2 separate regions of the Homo sapiens genome follow, and region 2 is linked to region 1. The links come from fine-mapping of genetic effects on gene expression. Tissue or cell type: whole blood. Region 1 holds a variant in brackets; the other region holds the start of a gene. All regions are shown on one strand. Distances are between the middles of the regions.

Region 1 (10,454 bases):
GGAAGAGACAGGTGGGGACCATGCCACATGTGGAGGCTCCAGTAAATATCTCTGGTTTTATTTGAGACACATTGAGAAACCATTGACAGTTTTCATGTAGGGAGTGACATGATCACATTGGATGCTATTTGGAGAATAGATAGAAGGAATCAAGATTAGAAGCAATGTTGGGATGATATGGTAGTAGTCCAGGTGAGAAGTGAAATTGATGAGGTAGAATGCACAGAACTTGCGTGGATGTCTCATGGGTTTCTGGTTCAAGCAGTGGAATTCACAGTTTAAAGCAATGGAGAAAATTGGAGGAAGAAGAGGTAATTTCTTCCCAATCTCCACCCCTTCTATAGATGAGTTATACATCGGAGACCACAGGTTTTTAGAAGATGTAATTCTTTACAAAGAGACATTCATTCTAGTATTTCAAATTGCTGCCTGCATAAGTAGGAAGCTTCGGGCCCTGGGAAGGGGTTGTCATTCCTCAGTCTCTGACACAGCCCAGTTACTTATTTTTGGAGAAAAACACTGAATATGATGAATGATTTTCTAAGCAGTCAGAAAGATAAATGCAGAGATGGCTAGAAGGAAAAAGTATCCAATGTTCCATGTGTGTACATTCACCACAGCTGTGTTAATTCTAGATCATAAACTCTGCCCAGCGCTATAGCTTGAGAGTTAAAAAAAAAAAAAGAATAAAATATTTTTAAAGGTACTCTGGGCAAAAGAGAACACATTTAAAAAGAAAAACGTGAACAAAAATTTAAGTTAAAAGAATAAAAAAGGAACTATAAGTAAAAAGATTGAGGCAAGAATTATTCAGAAATTAAAGTAATAGATTTGGTTAAAAATAAAAAAGATCAAAAGAGCTATAACTAAAAAATTAAAGTAACAGATTAAGGTAGAAAATTATGGTAAAATTTAGAAAAAGATTAAAAGGATAAAATATACAGTGTAAAGTCAAGAATAGACCACGTGAAAAGTAAAAATGCTAGACCCATAAGATTTAGAAAGGTAAAATCACGACAAACCTAAAATAAGCTGAAGGATAAACAGAGAGAACAAAAATAGAGAGGTGACAAAAGACTAAAGGAGGAATTACATACAATCAAAATGTTAAAACTTGCTAAAATTTAACTCTAAATCCCCAAGCATTTATGGAATAAAGGTCTGGAAAAATAAGCTCCCATTACTTAAGAAGAAACAAAGCTGACAAGCCACATGACTTACTAAGAGCAGCCTCTGAGCCTACACAACCCTCATGGGTTGGGGGCTCCAGTCGGGTTTCTTGAGGGCAGTGCAGGGGGGCCTGAATTGCCAGGGTATGTGTATTAGTCTGTTCTCATGCTGCTGATAAAGACATACCCTAGACTGGGTAATTTATACAGGAAAATGCATGTAATGGACTTATAGTTCCACATGGTTGGGGAGGCCTCACAGACCTGGTGGAAGGCAAGGAGGAGCAAGTCACATCTTATGTGGATGGCGGCAGATAAAAAGAGAGCTTGTGCAGGGCAACTCCCATTTTAAAAACTATCAGCTCTCGTAAGGCCTGTTCACTATTATGAGAACAGCATGGGAAAGACCTGCCCCCATAATTCAATCATCTGTCACTGTGTCCCTCCGACAACATGTGGGAATTATGGGAGCTACAAGATGAGATTCAGGTGGGGATACAGAGCCAAACCAGATCAGCGCGTGACCTCTCATGTATCTGTTTAATGCCAACAGCAAGCCTGCTGGTCAACAGCAAGCAGAGCTCATATCTGCTATGTCAACAGCAATTCCAAGGAAGGGAATTCCTCCAAAGGTTGTTGGCAGGATAGCTTCTGTATAGTAAGCACTCAACTATTATTGTTATCTATGGACATTAATCTTGAGTGTTGACTTTTGAATCAAAAATACATTGTACTTTGGGCAGGGTCAGGAAAGTAGAATCCAAAAGTAAGTCATATTGAGATAAAATTATACACCATACTTGGGTACATTTTACTTTCCATTTTGAGGTGTGGATACTGTGTGTGTGTGTGTGTGTGTGTGTGTGTGTGTGTGTGTGTGTACTAAAGCACATAATCCAGGAGATGAATTTCAAAATTTCCATGTGATAGGTTTATTTTTAAATGAAATGAAATTTTGGATGTGAATTTTGGTTACTTTGCTCAACTCCCCAAGGCCTCTGGCTCATTCTTTCTGCCTATGCGAGTTTTCAGAGGGAAAGAATAAAAACATAATCTTAGAAATGTTCTCATCCCCAGGTGAACTCCTTTTACAGTCTTTTCACACAAGAGACTAGAATTTATTCACAATGTTAGTAAAAGGGTGAGAAATTTCTTTACACTTAACCCAACCTCAGAGCTCATATCTGCTATGTCAACAGAATATACTCACACCTACAGCTTGGTTTCACAGAGCTACAGAGTCAGTGGAAATGCCAGGCTGAAGTTTTGGAGAACAAATCCGTATGAAATAATATCCCTGTGGCAAAATACAGAATAATGACTTGGGCCTTTGTGGATAAAATACGCAAAAGCTGAATTTAAGTGTTCTTAATTGGATCTTTGAAGGTTCAGATAGAAACCTAGGGGGTGGCCTGTTGGCCAGGCCAGGTCTGAAGGGTGGAGTGGGAAGAGAAGTCTCTTCATTGGAGTATTATGTTCCCTGATATCTTATATTTCTAGCAGAAGAGGCTTTTTGTCATTTTGGGGCTATACTCTATGTTCTCTCTGGGGAAACACCCTACTCCATTTTCAGTCCAACCCTCCCACCTGGTTTGGGCAGGACTAGTTTCAGTTCTGTCATTTGCAACTAAAAGGGTACAGACAAATTCTGACTTTTGAGGTTTTGCAATCAGCCAACAGGGCTGCAATGGGGAACTAGCTGCTCCCACTCAAGCGCTTTGACTGGGCTTTAATAGAAGTATTGCGCCCTCTGCTGGCAGAGGATTAGCATTGACCAGATCTCAAGGACGATGTGACAGAAAGCATTTTAGAGCCAGTCCTGGAGTCAAGGTCTTTCTCCTCCATATGCAAGCTGTTTTGCTTTGCTTAAGTAATGTTACTTCTATAAGTCTGCATTTTTGTATCTTAAAAATATTAATGTCAGAAACTACCTTTCAAGACTCTTTGATGAGTACATAAATGGCCATGTGAAAAGTACTTAATCGTTGAAAGATACTATTATAAGACAGTTTTGGCGAAGAAAGTCAGACTGTTTATCAAGTTTTTTCATGGTTCTAAAATATGATATTCAATGTTATTGGTTCTCTGGAGCTGAGAAAACATACATACATTGTATCAACTGAAGAAACTATTGTTATAGAATGTAGAGTACTAATATTAGTAAAGTTCTTAGAAATTTTCAGGTGAGAAATGTATAACAAATCAGATATGCCAAAAAGTCCCTTTATAAAATTTAATATACATTTCCAGTAGAAGTATTAGATAAAATAGACATTAATGGGTTTTCCTTTAACATGATTTTATATATGTATGAGAGACAGAGACACAGGAGAGAGGGAGGGAGAGAGAGAGAAAGAGAAAGAGAATATTATAATGGAGTAATACTAGAATACTGGAAACATTCCCACTAAGGCAAGAAACAAGGTAAAAATGTCTGCCATCTCCATTACTATTTAACATCATATTGGAGACATTAGTATACTAGTTAAAAAATTGGGGCATAAGACTTGGAAAAGTAGTTAAACTCTCTCCATTTGCAGTTGATATGACAGTATATCTGGAAAACCCAATAGAATAAATGATGACTCTAAATGAACAAAAGACCTCAGTAAGTTAGCAGGCTACAAAATGAGTGTACAAAAATCACACGTGTGTGTGAGTGTAAATGTGTGTGTATGTAAATGATAGCTAGTTAGAAGATAAAAGAAGAAAAAATTCAATTTGCAATAATGACAAAAATATAAAATACTTGAAAGTAAACTTAAGAGGTAATGTGTAAAATCCATATGAGGAAAAGTTTAAAACATTCCTAAAAGACAAATGGAAATATTTCTTGGTCTTGGATAAGATAACTTGACATTATGATGAAATAAATTATCTCTAATTTAATACCACCCTAATAAAATTGCAATATGTAGTTTTCCTGGGACTACAGAAATTGATTCCAAAGTTCATGTGGATAAACAAACATATATGCTTAAATAGGAAAACCAGTAAAAAAGGTCAGTGAAGAGAGAGAACCCTATTAAATATCAATGCACAATAAATATTTTGTATAATTAAAACAGTGTGGTATGAATGGATAGACAGATCTGGAACATAATGGAAAGTTCAGAAATAGAACCAACTAAAAAGAAAATTTTCATATAAATAAGGTGGCATCTCAAATTACAGACAGACTTATTAATAAATGGTGTTAGGACAACTGAACAGTCACTTGAAAACAGATAGCTTTGGATCCTTAACATACATTATACTCCAGGAAAAACTTATATAGAAAGAATGAGCCACATAAGTACTTGAAGAAAACATAAGTGAATTTGTTTGTAATCTTGTGGTGGGAAAAATTTTAAACCATGTTCATCATCCAGATATAATAGCAGAAAAAAAGCAATAATTTTGACATCAATAAAAAGGACTGGTCAGGCGTGGTTCCAGTACGTTGGGAGGCTGAGACAGGAGGATCTCTTGAGCCCAGAAGTTTGAGACCAGTCTGGGCAACAAGGGGAGGCTGTCTACACACACACACACACACACACACACACACACACACACACACAATTATTTGGATATGGTGGTGCATCTCTGTAGTCCCAGCGAGCTGGAAAGCTGAGGTGGGAGGATCACTTGAGCCTAGGAGGTCAAAGCTGCAGGGAGCCATGATTGTACCACTGCACTTCAGTCTGGGCAACAGAGAAAGACCCTAACTCTAAAAATATAAATAAAATAAAATGTAAAGAATATTTGTTTAAAAAAAAAAGCATCACAAGCAAAGTCAAAAGACAAGTGACAAACTGGGAGTAATATAATTGCAACATATGTCATAGATAAAGAACTAAACTCCTCAATTTACAAAACACTCAAAAATTGAGAAACACAAAGATTCATACACACCAAAACCCACCCATGCCCTTAAACATATAAACCTCATGTTTATGGCAGAGAAATTTGAATTAAATTTACAATGAGGAAGTTCTCTCAACTTTAGTGTATATTTGGAAAAGCTCATAGTAAATTACTGAGAAAAAATTAATATATTTCTCATTTTCAGGTTGGCACACATTCAGAAGCTTGAAAACACATTTTTCTGTGATCAGCTGAGGGAAATTTCAATCTGAGCTGGGTATTAGATGATATGATTATTGGATGAAAGTTAAATTTCTTGGGTGTGATTATGGTTATGCAGGCATGTGTGCATTTCCTTAAGAAATACATGCTATG[T/G]CAGGGCGCGGTGGCTCATGCCTGTAATCACAGAATTTTGGGAGGCTGAGGTGGGCGGATTACGAAGTCAGGATATTGAGACCATCCTGGCCAATATGGTGAAACCCCATCTCTACTAAAAATACAAAAATTAGCTGGGCGTGGTGGCATGTGCCTTAATCCCAGCTACTTGGGAGGCTGAGGCTGGAGAATCACTTTAACCATGGAGTCAGAGGATCACGCCACTGCACTCCAGCCTGGTGACAGAGCGAGACTCCACCTCAAAAGAAAAAAAAAAAGAAAGAAATACATGCTATGATATTCTGGGGCAAAATGTCATGAAGTATGCAAACCTACTTTCAAATACATCAGCTCAACAAAAGTGTGTGTGTGGTTTTATATTTATCTCTCTTATTTCTTTTTTTTTTTTTACTGTGTCAATAAAAGTTTATTCACAGACATTGAAATTTGAATTTCACGATTTTCATGTCATGAAATATATTTTTAACTTGTTTTCAACGATTTTTAAAATGTAAAAAACATTCGCAGGCCATATATCAGGCAGTGGGCAGGATTCAGCCCACATGCCAGTTTGCCAACCCTATCTTACGTGAAGATACCGACAAGACCAACCTTAACTTCTCCTAAAACCAAAATTTTCAAAGCAGACTATTAACAAGAGCATGCCCCGCTCCAGATTCCCCAGAATTGTGAAGGAGGTGAGGCTGCTGGTACAGGAGGACAATGGTCTGGCATGGCCCCTCTGTTCTGAAACCCCTGGTCCCCAGCACAGGGGAGTGGGCCTCAGCTTTGCAGACAGCACTGTTTCCAGATCACTGTTAAAAGGAAAACTAAGGATTCTAAGTCCCCAGCGAAAACCCACACCAAAATCATCACCAGCGTGCACATCTGTTCCCTTGTTGAGATTTAATCACTGAAGAGCAGGTGGAAGCCGTCCTGAACGAATTACCCCATGTACCTAGAAGCCTCTTCCCAAATCAAGCAGTGATCACCTCACTCATAAACAGAGCACGCACCCAAAGGTTTTGCTTGATGTATTTTGAGACTAGTTTCACGTGTTGCTGCTAAACGTTTCCAGGGAGTTGCAAAAGTTAATCCTTATGGATCGGTGATTGAAATACAGTGACATCCCTGCTGCTCTGCAGTGTGCGCAAAGGTCAAATCAAAATAACAAACACGCACGACGTCTTCGATCACCTTCCTGTAAAACCGGGTTTCTAGCCGGACCCATGTCCTCACAGTTCCTGAATCAAGTTCACCGTCTGTGCAAGCGCCACCTGACAGAGCTCCCTGCGACACTGAAACGCGTTTGGGCACTTCCCACGTGGGAACCACTCGCCACGGGCACCTCCTGAGTACAAGGTGCAGTGCTGGGGCTGGGGCAGGCTGAAGCGTTCGTTCTAAGTTTCTTTATTATTATTATTATTATTATTATTATACTTTAAGTTTTAGGGTACATGTGCACAATGTGCAGGTTAGTTACATATGTATACATGTGCCATGCTGGTGCGCTGCACCCACTAACTCGTTATCTAGCATTAGGTATATCTCCTAATGCTATCCCTCCCCCCTCCCCCCACCCCACAACAGGCCCCAGAGTGTGATGTTCCCCTTCCTGTGTCCATGTGTTCTCATTGTTCAATTCCCACCTATGAGTGAGAATATGAGGTGTTTGGTTTTTTGTTCTTGCGATAGTTTACTGAGAATGATGATTTCCAGTTTCATCCATGTCCCTACAAAGGACATGAACTCATCGTTTTTTATGGCTGAATAGTATTCCATGGTGTATATGTGCCACATTTTCTTAATCCAGTCTATCATTGTTGGACATTTGGGTTGGTTCCAAGTCTTTGCTATTGTGAATAATGCCACAATAAACATACTTGTGCATGTGTCTTTATAGCAGCATGATTTATAGTCTTTGGGTATATACCCAGTAATGGGATGGCTGGGTCAAATGGTATTTCTAGTTCTAGATCCCTGAGGAATTGCCACACTGACTTGCACAATGGTTGAACTAGTTTACAGTCCCATCAACAGTGTAAAAGTGTTCCTATTTCTCCACATCCTCTCCAGCACCTGTTGTTTCCTGACATTTTAATGATTGCCATTCTAACTGGTGTGAGATGGTATCTCATTGTGGTTTTGATTTGCATTTCTCTGACGGCCAGTGATGGTGAGCATTTTTTCATGTGTTTTTTGGCTGCATAAATGTCTTCTTTTGAGAAGTGTCTGTTCATGTTCTTTGCCCACTTTTTGATGGGGTTGTTTGTTTTTTTCTTGTAAATTTGTTTGAGTTCATTGTCGATTCTGGATATTAGCCCTTTGTCAGATGAGTAGGTTGCGAAAATTTTCTCCCATTTTGTAGGTTGCCTGTTCACTCTGATGGTAGTTTGTTTTGCTGTGCAGAAGCTCTTTAGTTTAATGAGATCCCATTTGTCAATTTTGGCTTTTGTTGCCATTGCTTTTGGTGTTTTTAGACATGAAGTCCTTGCCCATGCCTATGTCCTGAATGGTAAAGCGTAGGTTTTCTTCTAGGGTTTTTATGGTTTTAGGTCTAACGTTTAAGTCTTTAATCCATCTTGAATTGATTTTTGTATAAGGTGTAAGGAAGGGATCCAGTTTCAGCTTTCTACATATGGCTAGCCAGTTTTCCCAGCACCTTTTATTAAATAGGGAATCCTTCCCCCATTGCTTGTTTTTCTCAGGTTTGTCAAAGATCAGATAGTTGTAGATATGCAAAAATATGGAACACTAAGTTTCAACAGCCTCGTATGGCGAGCAGCTACTGCGGGGCAGCGCATCACCTGGACCGTGAGATGGTGGGAACAACAGGAAAGCGTCCACAGCGTCGGCGATAGATCCTCCTAGAGGAAGCGCGCCAGGCTCCAGAATAGCAGAAAACTGACAGCTGCCACCACTGCAGGTTCACACGCTGCCTTCAACGTGAAGGTAAAGTGCTTCCACTCCACCCGTCTGGCTTCCCTTCAACCAGAAAGGAGCACAGGCACCAGGCAAGAGCCTGTGCCCAGCAACACAGAATGTTCTAGAGCCCAGGAGACAGTCCCGTTCTCTGAGCTGAGCTGGTCGCACCTGATGTCACCTTTTCCTTTTTTTTTTTTTGAGACGGAGTCTGGCTCTGTCACCCAGGCTGGAGTGCAGTGGCGCGATCTCGGCTCGCTGCAAGCTCTGCCTCCCGGGTTCACGCCATTCTCCTGCCTCAGCCTCTTGAGCAGCTGGGACTGACTACAGGCGCCCGCCACCACGCCCGGCTAATTTTTTGTATTTTTTTAAGTAGAGACGGGGTTTAACCGTGTTAGCCAGGATGGTCTCAATGTCCTGACCTCGTGATCTGCCCGCCTCGGCCTCCCAAAGTGCTGGGATTACAGGCGTGAGCCAAAACGCCCGGCCACCTTTTCCTTTTTGAAGGGAGATGCCAGGATGCAGGGGGAACAAGTGAAAACTACTTTTCCTGTTTCGAGGGTGTGGGGCACCACCGACAGCCAAGATCAGCAACGCCAGGCTGACTCCCCCGGCCTTATCTTCTTGGCCTGCCCATTGGCCCAGGTGGGGGACTCAACTGCGCTGCTGCTTCTTCAGCTGCTGCTGCAGTCTCTCCTCTTTCTTCTTCAGGTAGAAGGTTATGTTGTCAAAGTTGGCCTTGTAGAGACTGCTAAAGCTGGGGTTCACGCAGGCAGAGCCTTCCAGCATGGCCCGGTTCCCACAAAGAACACTGGAGACTTTCTTTAACATGGCACTTTCAGGAACAGACTGCCACTGGCCACCCACAGGCCTGCAGAGCACCAGGGGAGGGGGGCTTCCAGGCAGTCCTGGAGCACCGACAGCCCCTGGGTTTCCTCAAAAGCTACATCCCACACTCGATGCTGGAATGACAGCTGCTGCCTGTACACCAGCTTCTGTCTACCGGCGTGAAACTGGAAGATGTATCCCACAGCAATGCAGGTGCTCAGAAGCACCACCCGGTTCTCCTGGCACCAGAACGCAATCCTGGACGCGGCAAACCTCTGGGGGGACCTGGAGGTCCGCGGACTCTTGGAGACTGTGGAGGTGACAGAAGTGAAGTTGGCGGCCGCTTCTGTACTCCCAGAGCCTCAGGGTGCAGGCCCCGGAGGAGGATGGAAGCAGCTCAGGCTGAGTGGGCAACATGGAGATGTAGTTCACAAACTGTGTGCCCGAGGCAGGAGGACTCAATGCTGCGGGGCATGGCGGCCCTGCTGACCTGGATCTTCTCGTCCCGGTCCGCAGTGAGGACGAAGTGGTCATCAGGATGCACAGCCACGTCTAATAGCATGGACAGAAAGGTGCTGCAGCTCCAGTCGGCCGCATCCGTGTGGCTCCAGCACCGAAGAGGAGACGCCTCCAGACTTGTCAGCCACCAAGACCTTCTCTTCGGAGGCTGTGAAGGTCAGGTCCGTACACCTCCTTGTCATGGTCCTGACACTCAGACATTGCCATGGTTATGTACAGAAAAGAATCAGACACTTACTGCCATCGGTTAAAGAAAACAGCTGCCAGACTTGGAGAAGGTGGACCGACAATTGCACCGCTCCCCTGAACCAAGGGCGGCTCGTCGTCCCCTTTATTTTCTTGTGACTTGTTTTCAAGCACTGCAGTCATAGATGAAGAGGCTGTCATCGTCACTGCTTGCAGTGGAGGTGGTCTGGAACCGGCTGCTCCCCTGCACCACCAGCTTCTGCCCGCACAACGCCAGCCCCGCAGAGTCTGCCTTGTGCCTACCCGCCTCGCCGCCATGCATATTTCCCCACCCAGCACATTTTTAACTTATTTCAATAGTTTTGGGGGAACAGGTGGGTTTTGGTTACATGGATAAGTTATTCAGTGGTAATTACTGAGATTTTGGAGCACCCAATCATCTGAGCAGTGTATGGTGAACCCAATGTGTAGCCTTTTATCCCTTGCCCACACTTTCCCATTCCCCTCGGGTCCCCAAAGTCCATTATATTATTCTTTGAGTCTTCATAGCTTAAGCTCTCCCTCATAAGATAGAACATACAATGTTTGGTTTTCCATTCTTGAGTTATT
Region 2 (10,454 bases), 79 kb before region 1:
ACCTCTTTAAGGGTGGAGAGTCTAGATAACTTATTTGGAATTCTTGGAATCTTGGAATAGATCTGTGTATTCTCTCTTATTTATTTACTCAATCATTAATTTATTTATTTTTAGACTTTGGTTATAATCCAATACTATTTTCTTTATTTTCTTGCTCTAAATTTTCTAGCTTTGGCCACTAGGTGCTCAGTCAGTTGGCTCTTTGGTCCCTTTGATCACCATCATGGTTTTAGTTTTTTGTGTTTTTAGTTAAAATTTTTAGCACTTTCTTACTTTCTGGTACGCAGGATGCTTCAGGGTCATCTTTTGCATTTCCTGCTGAAATCTTAGAGCCATCTATTTCTCCAAGGACGTCTCATTCCTTTTATTGGAGAATCGTATTAGTAATCAAGATCTGGGAGCTAGATGTGCTTGACACTACCAGGGTGTTGTCGCTTCTAGGCCTTCTCCACTAACACAGCAAGGAAATATATGTGTGAAAGTGCTTTCTTTTGAGCAAGTGGGTATATGTTCACACTTTTATATATTCTTAAATCATTTCCATATGAATTTGTGTATCTGTTGAAAGGGGATTACTCAGTATGTGGGCTCAGTTCCCTCTTTTGAACTGAAGCCCATTGGGCACCAACTAGATATTCTCTAATAGGTTTAAGTGAATTAGACAACTTAATGCTTTCTTTTTGTTGGGAGAAAGTTCTCCATGGGTTTTTTGTGTATAGGTACAACTTGCAAGCAGAGGTACTCTATTTTATGGATGCTTGTACAGTGAACAACAGCTTTGAAGGTAGAGGTTGTCTCCTTCCAGAGCAAAGGGCAGATTCACTTACTGTCCAGTAAAATAAAAATAAGGTCTGCCTCTGAGACAAAGTTTGGGCTGGTTTGCTTGCAGCCCATTACAAAAGATTCATGTTCCCTAAGCTCTGGGTCCTCAATTGTGATGCGAACCCTCAGTATGTGCAGCATCCATCTAGGCCGCTCCACTTTGTCCTTGGTAGACTTAGGGCCAAAAAGCATCAAGACCAATATGGAGCTAATTCTGTTTACTGTGCTGTGAGTAGCAAAGTCCTTTGTCTCACTCAAAACTCCAGAAGTCTTGAGTCTTCTGTGAGCATCCCTGAAACAGGCAGGCTGACCTGTTAACTTACAAGTAGGGTAACATCTCAGACTCTTCTCACAGGTTTTGACACCTTTTACTTAATTTATATTTAGCACTAGAGGTAGTCTGATATTTCTCAGCTAAATTTAATGTCTCTTTTGAATTACCAATGCTAAAGAATAACTTTGAAAAAGATAAAACGATGACTCTTACATATAATAGAATGAAAACATGTCAAAATTTTATTTAACTCATGAATTAAAGGGGAAACTAGCCAGAGGTCACCACCAGTTCAAAGGCAAGGTCAAAGACCAATTTATATAGAGTAAAGCAACGTTGAAATTCATTTACCAATGGACACAAAATTGACTTTTTCCATGGGAGGCGGGGTGGAGTGCGGGTGTGGGGTAAGGTGGAGTCTACTGAACTTCCATCAGGCAGAATTTATTTGCATGTTTATAGACAAGAATTATTTGTATTTATCCACAATCTACCGAGCTCTAGAATAACTCCAAGACAAGAAAAAAACACAGATTCCATAGAAACAAATAACTTAGAAAAGTGTGCTGTAAAGAATGCATAGTTTTCCATTGGAGATGCTCAGTAATCATTTTTGCTTATTCAGAAGTCTTAACTTGCCCTTACAGCAATAAAATGTGCTACAAGAATAATGTTTCCAAGGTTATTGATCAAATGTGTACAGAAAGAGATGTTAAAAAGTCATTCTAGGCTGGGTGCGGTGGCTTACACCTGTAATCCCAGAACTTTGGGAGGCCAAGGCAGGCAGATCACCGGAGGTCAGGAGTTCAAGACCAGCCTGGCCAGCATGGTGAAACCTTGTCTCTACTAAAAATACAAAAATAGCCGGGCGTGGTGGCGTGTCCCTGTAATCCCAGCTACTTGGGAGGCTGAGGTGGGAGGATCACTTGAACCTGGGAGGTGGAGGTTGCAGTGAGCCAAGATCAGGCCATTGCACTCCAGCCTGGGCGACAGAGCAAGACTCTGTCTCAAAAAAAAGTCATTCTAGACACATATACATAAGATACTGGAGGAGGTTCTAATGATCTGATCTGGGAGAGGGATCTGACACAGCAGAAGAAAACTTGGTCAAACTCTGTTGAGAGAAGTCCTGAAAGGCGTCATTGATTCAGATAGTTCTCTTTACTGACCACTAGGTGTCGCTAAGTAGGCGCGATGACACGTGGCAGGAGGGGGAGGGGCAAAGGCGGCAGCATCCAGTCCATCAATGGCGATGTTCAGCAGATTCACAAATGCCGGAGGTTCCTTGGTGTCAAGACATTTTTACCCCTGCACCTATTCAGGCGCCTGGTACATACTAAACACTTAATACCATGTTTCTTGAAATGAATTATTCGGAACGCAGGGGGTGCTTTTACACCGGAGGCATCCAAAAATAATATGAGGTTTCTGAGTGAGGGTTCTTTAAAGCCTTCTGATCATGCTAGGACAAACAGTGAAGACATTCCAAATTAGAAGTCACTTGGTCAGTTAAACAAAAGGAGATATATTTAACTATGAAATCAGACTTGGTAAATCTAAGAGTGGTTTCCATTGACTATACAGACATAGCAAAATACTTGTTTGAGTGCAGATACAGAAAATTACCCTTTTATTTGTTCCTGTTTTGCTCAGGTGACATCAAACGTTGATCCCTCTACTCTCAGCCCCCAACACTTTATAACAATTTCTAATTAATTTTGGTGCAATGAGAAACTGAAAAGAAACCATCAACGATTTTAAGTAATGGATATTAGCATAAAATGAAAAGTGAGAAATACAGGGGCAGTGACTGTTAGCTAGAAACACAGCTGGAGGGAAGAGGAGAGGGAATCAGGAAGCTCTCAGAAAACCCCAAGAACAGAACTTCTTCTTTCCCCTAACTTTCCTGGCTCCTCAGATGCCCTCGTGGACGTCTGTCAGTTTTGCCTTTCTCGGAGCCATCGCTCATCTATTGTTAATAGCATCTTGATTTTACTTTAGGGGACACCTCCCTTCTCCCATTGAGCATGGTCCTGCTGGGGCTGTCGGTTCACATGTTCCCCCTTCAGATACCGGAGAGAGAAGCACTAGGCCAAGTTAGGCCAATCAGAGGCCTGATCCCTGGAGACTACTGCAGAGTCTGAAAACCACTGGCATTCTTTCATCTTGGTGTCTTGCTTCCTGGAACCCCACAACTGCCCTGATTCCTGTCCTTTCAAAGACCCCAGTCTTCATTTTTCCTGCAGTCTGTGGGCCACTCCATTCTCTTCCAGTAAATTCCTATTTGCCTCTATTAGCCAGAGTTGTTATCTGTTGATTGCAGTGAAAGAACACTGACGGGTGTAATGAGGAAAATCTAGTCCTACGATTGCTTTCATCATCTCTGTTGAACTTATCATTGAAAAGGATCAGCTCTAGGATAACGGAGATTTGCCTTGAAGATGAAGAACAACTAATATTTATGGATACTAGTTATGTTTCAGACACTCTTCTAAATACTTCCATGTCTATCTCATTTAATCTTCAGAATGACCTCATTGGATAGGTGTTATTATCCCCGTATTACAGATGAGAAAACTGAGGCACAAAGTAATAACAAACTTGCTCATTTTCACATGGTCAGATTAACGGGTCTCTAAGTTTATTCTATGGAATATTCGTTTTTCAGGATTATATTGGTTTCCTGGGGCTGCCATAACAAAGTACCACAAACTGGTGGCTTAAAACAATGGAAATTTATTGTCTTACAGTTCTGGAGGCCGTAAGTCTGAAATCAAGGTGTCGTCAGCACCATGTTCTCTATAGCAACTCTAGGAGAGAATTGTTGCGTGCCTCTTCCAGCTTCTGGGGGTTGCTGGCCATCCTTGGCGTTCCTTGGCTTGTAAATGCATCACTCTGTTGTCACATGGCTGTTTTCTGTGTGCCCTTTTCTTATAAGGACACCAGTCACATTGGATTAAGGGCCCACTTGTTTCAGTATGACCTCATCTTAACTAATTATATCTACAATGACCCTATTTCCAAATAAGGATGCATTCTGAAGTGCTAAGGGTTAGGACTTCTTTTTTGGGAGATCTAATTCAATTTATGACAAAAAAAGTTAACATAAATTGTTCAAAAAAGAATGCTATGGCGAAGTAAGTTTGGAAAACACCATTATAGGATTCTTTACTGTAGTACTTTGGCGGGGCGAAGGTCTTTAATTTGTTCATCATTTAGAGGAGTTGCCAACCTGGGATTATTTTGTAAAGTTTCTCAAAAACCTGTTTGATGATGGACTTCTTTTTACAGGCTGACTGTGAGATCAGCACTCAACGTGGAACACCTGTTCTCATGCCTGATGTGAGGCAGTGGCACCCTAGCACATCCCTCCCTGGTTCTTCTGCTTTCCCCTGTGACCTGCAGCGTCAACTTGAGACAACTTTTCTTCTCTGAGCCTGAGTTTCCTTACTCTAAGATAAGGAAAATAATATACTTTCCCTATGGGTTTGATGTGTGGACTCATTTTTGTTGTTGTTTGTTTTGAGATGAAGTCTTTCTCTGTCGCCCAGGCTGGAGTGCAGTGGACCAATCTCGGCTCACTGCAACCTCCGCCTCCCAGGTTCAAGTGATTCTGCTGCCTCAGCCTCCCGAGTAGCTGGGACTACAGGCACACGCCACCATGCCCGGCTAATTTTTGTATTTTTAGTAGAGACAAGGTTTCACCATGTTGGCCAGGCTGGTCTTGAACTCCTGACCCCAGGTGATCCATCTGCCTTGGCCTCCCAAAGTGCTGGGAGTACAGGCGTGAGCTACCATGCCTGGCCGATGTGCAGACTAATTTAGTTTAAAATAAGTAGGCTGAGAAACACTTGATACAGGGCTTGGCATAGAGAGAAGTAGGCATTCATTTAGTAGTTAACTTTGTTATGCTAACCAGATGGTTCTGAATTTCTTGGCATTTTTATTGGGCATTTCCAGGATCTCAAGAATAATCCTTACTCAGGACAATTTTCACCAACAAGTTTTTCTTGTTCATCTTCCTCTTCCTTTCATCACTTCTTTTTCTCTTTAAAAGAGGGATTTTCTGTATGGTAGTAAGAATTTCCCTTAGGTAAATATTCAACCCAACTGTGGTTTTAATAAGTCTCCAGCATTAGCAAGGAATGGGTGGTTTACTCTGCAGTTCCTTATTCTGATCTTCCAACCCAGTGAGGGGAAGAGGATGTGATCATGCGACCGCCAGCAGAAGGGAAATTGTGAAAGCGACCTGCTGTAGAAAAGGCGGCCCACAGCCACCTCAGCATGCAGAGGAGGCCCAGCTGCTGAGAGGAGTTGCCTGAGAGTGACCTTTGCATCTGCCTGTCCAGCCAGCATGGAACCAAAGCGGATCAGAGAGGGCTACCTTGTGAAGAAGGTGAGCGAAGGTGCCACTTACCAGGGTGTCAGTGGACATGGGCTGGGGAGACTTGGGTTCAGCTCCACCGGCTACCTGCTCATCTTAGGAATGTTTCCTGTTCAACCAGTTGGGTTGAAATAGGGGAGCGTGGTAGCACATAGAATGTTGGAGTGGGGTTAGGGGAGTGGGGATACTCATCCAGCCCCGGCTTCCTTACAGTTTGATATTACGGGTCTGAGAATTCCAGATGGCAGGGCCTGGAAGGTGGGGATCTAAGCTAACTCCCTCCAGATTTAGAATATCCTTTTTAAGAGGCACACAGATGTGTTCTGTCAGAAGATATACTCCTCTTCTATGGAGGTTTCTTGGAGGGACTATTCATTTTTTATTTAAATTCCACTTCCCCTCAGTTCTTTTTTTGGGAGGCAAGGGGAAAAAAGTGATTAAAGAGTTGATATAATGATAGAGTAATTACGGCTTATTTCTTGGGCCATCTTCTTGGAATTGACACGTTTAAAAAAAACCTTATCTTTTTTTAATTGGGCTGAAATCTCTTCACTCACAATTCTTAGTAAATTTGCATAATGTGGCATCGAGGTGGTAGATGCACCATTTTAAAGATTAGGGTACTGAAAAAGGCTTAGCCTCCCTGGTGTGCATCATGAAAATTGAATTTTCTTAGTGCTGTTTGTCTTTCTTCGGATGCTGAGTGTGTGCTGTGTGGTTGTGAAAGCTCCCCGGGATGTGAATTCACACATAGGACTTGGTGTCCTGTGGGCAACACCTATATACACAGATATGCTCACACTAACCTTAGTGAGTGGATTGTTTCAGAAATGAGCTGAACGTAGTGCCTTCCTTCAGGTGCTTAGCTTTTTAGTTGAATGAACAGTGAATGTGAGTCTGTTTTAGGCTACTCATTTGTTTCACGTTTTAACCTACAATGTTCTACCTGTAAGGGGGGTTAAATAGCACACATTGCTGCCTGCTTCCATTTTGACTTCAGGCTGGAGGGACCCTAGGTCATCTGGCCTAATTCCTTCATTTGCAGAAGAGGAGACAGACCCAGAAGGCTCGGTGATTGCCCCAAGTCACATGGCTATGACAGTTGTGACCAGCCACTCCTTCTCTGATGCTTAGGTTTCTGATTCATGGCACTGAACTTTGTTCATTACTCCAGCATTTTCTTAAAGCAGATTTATTCCAAGTTAGGATTTGTAGTGTATTTGTGATGGTGAGAGCTATGAGTTGGTACTGGAGAATAAGTGGGCCCTCAGCTGCTAATCTCTGTAGCCAGCTGTGCTTCGAAACATCCTTTGGAAAAGACACACTTATACATAGAAGTGTAAAAGATTACTTGCAATAGGCACCAATAATAATTGGCGAGACCTGGTAATAATTAATATTGACTTATTCCTTTCCTGATCACTTGTGCTAGTATCCTGAGAAGAGCAAGTGAATAGGAACATTTCTGCAAGTTTTTGTTTGTTTTTTTAAACAATTAAAAACATCTTGCAATGAAAATTGCTGTTATAAAGTTTGTATGCTCATATTTTAATCTCCCTAAATTACAAAAATATGAAGACTAAATTTCTAATAAGTGAAGCTGTCTCACTAAAAATTGGGGATGATAGAGTCAGGGTTGTCAAGCATGTGGATTTAAATTAATAAATAGTTTTTAATTAGTGAGAGTAGTTCTCTCAGATTGTAAAAGCCAATCTAGAAAATGTGCCTGGAATTAAATAGTGAAATTTTGTATTGATAGTTTTACAATTTATATCTTCCATAATTTTCATGTTTACAAGTTACATCTTCCATAATTACTGCATTTTTCTCTGGGACCTTTTGAACACTCTGATATAATGCATTAAGATTCTCTTTTTTTTTTTTATTCTTCTAAAACTTTAATTTTAGGTTCAGGAGTATAGGTACAGGCTTGTTATATAGGTAAACTCCTGTGACAGGCGTTTGTTGTACAGATCATTTTGTTACCTAAGTACTATGCCTAGTATCCAATAGTTATTTTTTCTGATCCTCTCCCTTCTCCAACCCTCCACTCTCACATAGCTTCCAGCGTCTCATTTGATATTTTAAAGAAATGTTTGGTCCAGAAATATTCCCTTTTTCAGCTGCAGAACTAAACCTAAAGACAGAGTTTCCTGAGAAGGTATTAAAGTTCTTAACTACTTTAGACATTAAGTTTCCTTCAGTTACCTCACGTGTGGGTTAAAAACTGTATATGTCAAGAATCTGACATATAATTGGTGTACATAAGCTGCATAAGACACTGATTATTTGTATCAGCATCAATATATGCTTCAGTAGATAGTGGGGCCTCCCCTAGATGTTAATGGGGCTATGTACTGGTTCCTGGGTTGGTTGCCAAATTAATTATGAAGGAAGGGCCATAAAAATCTTTGAAAAGGCTCTTAGAAGCCTTGGCTATGGTTTTTGATATTAAAGCATGAAAAATAATATAGTGAATCTTCCTCCATTCACCTTTTTCTCTTATGCAGTTCAAGATACCTGGGTAGTAACAGAGAACATCTTTGTCCTGTGTCTTGTTTTATGAAATAATTTTATTGCAGATAAGTTGTTTTGGGTGGAAAAAATATAGCATTAGAAAATGCTGGTGCAGGAATTTTGTCAGGTCAGAAATCTTGGGGTCAATAGTGTTAACTGTAAAACGTTTCTGCTTTTCTTCTGTGCAAGATGACTGTTGACATTTCACAATCCAGGTTTCCTCTTTTGCCTCCTGAATAAGATCTCCAAATGAAGACAGTGGTTAAGAGGGGGAGGGAAAATACAAGATTCTGTCATTTTCCAGCTTTTTCATTCCAAGTAACACCCATGTCTCTTTGCCTCAGAGTCTTTCACCTTACTTTTTTGTTTTAAAAAAGAGCACTTCTAGCCAACCATGGAGCAGCAAGCTGCTATACGAACATGACTTCATTTAATCCTAACCACCCTATGTGATCCTCATCTTACAGATAAGAAAACTGAGGTTCACAGAGAATAAGTGATTCGTCCACAGTGAAACATGTGGCAAGAGGATGACCTGGGATTCAAATCCCGGCCTGCCTAACAGCAAAGCCTACCATCTCATTGATCCCAGGCAGCATTCTGAAAGGCAGGCTTGCCCTGGCCTGCAAAAGAACTCACTAGAGCCAGAGCAAGGCACGAACAAATTGTTTTGTGGGCAAGATTAAGTTTAAAAACCTCAGCCTCCTTTCCTCTCTGTTTAGGGGGTTTCTTTCTGGCCAATAAACATGTTTGGAAGGTACTCGAATACCTACTACTGAATTAGATATGTTCATCATCATAACTGGAAAAAATGAGAGAAGAGCAAATTATATGCTCTGCATAACCTAGACTCCTCCAAGTCATGTCTCAAACCAGCCTAATTCCTAGAGGTTTATGGAGCAAGCTGTTGTTTCCAGGACAACCAACCTCACAAGCACTTGGCGCAGCAGCGCTGACTCAGAAAGTGGCTGAGGGATTTGGATGTCCTTTGAGGCTGGGAGAAAGCATAGGAATCAGGGTGATGGGAAAGGGAAGGGCAAGCAGCAGGGACAGGAAAGGAAAGGGCTGCAGAAAGCTGTGGTAGAAGTGGAAGAGAGCCCGAGAGTCAGGGTCCTGGCCCAGGAGTTCTTTCCTGGATCTACCTTGTCTTCTAGGCAGCATGAAATAATCTGAAGCGATTTGTGCCTACTGATTCATCATCACTGTAACAGCTAACGCATGTGGTGTTTACCCTGAAGCAGGAACAGTTCCAAGCATTTCATGCCTTAATGCATTTATACAGCATACTTAAGACAACTCAACAAAATGGGGACAATTATTATCCTTACTTAACAGATAAGGAGATTGAAGTACAGAGAGGCAAATGGCCTTGTCCAAAGTCACACAGTTAATAAGTGGCAGAGCTGGTTTGCAACCCAGCAGTGTGGCCCCAGTATCACGCAGAGCCTAACCACTTTCTATGTGGCCCTCGTGGGCTCGTACTGCAGTGACATTCTTTTCCAAAGCACTGTCACCATGATGAGGGGTACCCAGGGGAACATTATGCCAGAGCGACTCCACAGTGTTGCCTACAAAACCGTACTCTTTTTTTTTTTTTTTTTTGAGATGGAGTTTTGCTCTTGTTGCCCAGGCTGGAGTGCAATGGTACGATCTCGGCTCACTGCAACCTCCGCCCCCAAAACCGTACTTTTACCTGTTTCTATGGTCGCCATTTTTCAAATGTATACTACATGCTGGCCACTGTGGTGAATGCTTTATGTATATTATCTCATTTAATCTTCACCACAATGTGAAACAGGTGCTTTGTTACCTTCATTTTACAGGTGAGGAGACTCATGCTTGGAAAAATTAAATAAGTTACCTAAGGTTACAGAGCCTGGAAGAGGCAAAATTGAGATCTGAATTTAAATCTAAGGCTCCAGAAGTCATGCTGTTAAGCACTCTCTGTGCCATTTCTGTATTACTTATTTAATATGTTTTCACTGATAAATTTTCCAACCTGGAAGAGTTCACTTATGTAAAAAATATGCTACTGAATAGACTAGTTCCTTTGCCTTCAGTGAGTTTGTATAGGCACAACACAACCATTTGTTTGGGATGTTATGTCAGTGATTTGATGGATCAGATTGGAAAACTAGATGATGTGATTTATGTTGTAGCCAACATAAGGGCTTAATTGAATGCAGCATCAACTTAAAATAACATGTCCCATGGGTGTGCAAGAATAGATAATAGTAACTGACAGTTCTGCTTTAGATATGCAGTTTTGATCACAGTGTAATTTTCCTTTGAATTCCAGCCATACATTGTATGTGAAAAGAGAAATTTGAGGGAAAGGGGAAGTTAAAAGAGATGCCTTCACTTTGTAGGGAGTGTCTGAGAGGGGTTCTAAACACAAATATCCGATTGCCCCAACCCTCAGCCATTGGTTGTAGCTTCTTTCTGTGATGCTGGGTG

Evidence for each region. PIP is the estimated chance that this variant, and not a neighbour inherited with it, causes the effect.
Region 2: it holds the start of PLEK, and the variant in region 1 is fine-mapped to the expression of PLEK in whole blood (TOPMed, PIP above 0.99).

What each region holds. Positions count from the first base shown.
Region 1 is chr2:68,439,006-68,449,459 of GRCh38, forward strand. It overlaps the pseudogene WDR4P2. Among named protein-coding and RNA genes, the nearest start is that of FBXO48, 23 kb to the right of the region's middle. RefSeq lists enhancers at 2,416-2,465, 2,556-2,605 and a silencer at 2,796-3,035. The variant T/G (reference allele first, on the strand shown) is at 5,391.
Region 2 is chr2:68,359,902-68,370,355 of GRCh38, forward strand. PLEK (pleckstrin) reads left to right here and starts at 5,381. Exons shown (of 9, transcript NM_002664.3): 1 at 5,381-5,492. The coding sequence starts at 5,451. LOC101927723 (a long non-coding RNA gene) reads right to left here and starts at 6,503. Exons shown (of 2, transcript NR_187652.1): 1 at 5,514-6,503; 2 at 1,316-2,558. RefSeq lists enhancers at 2,340-2,409, 5,341-5,420.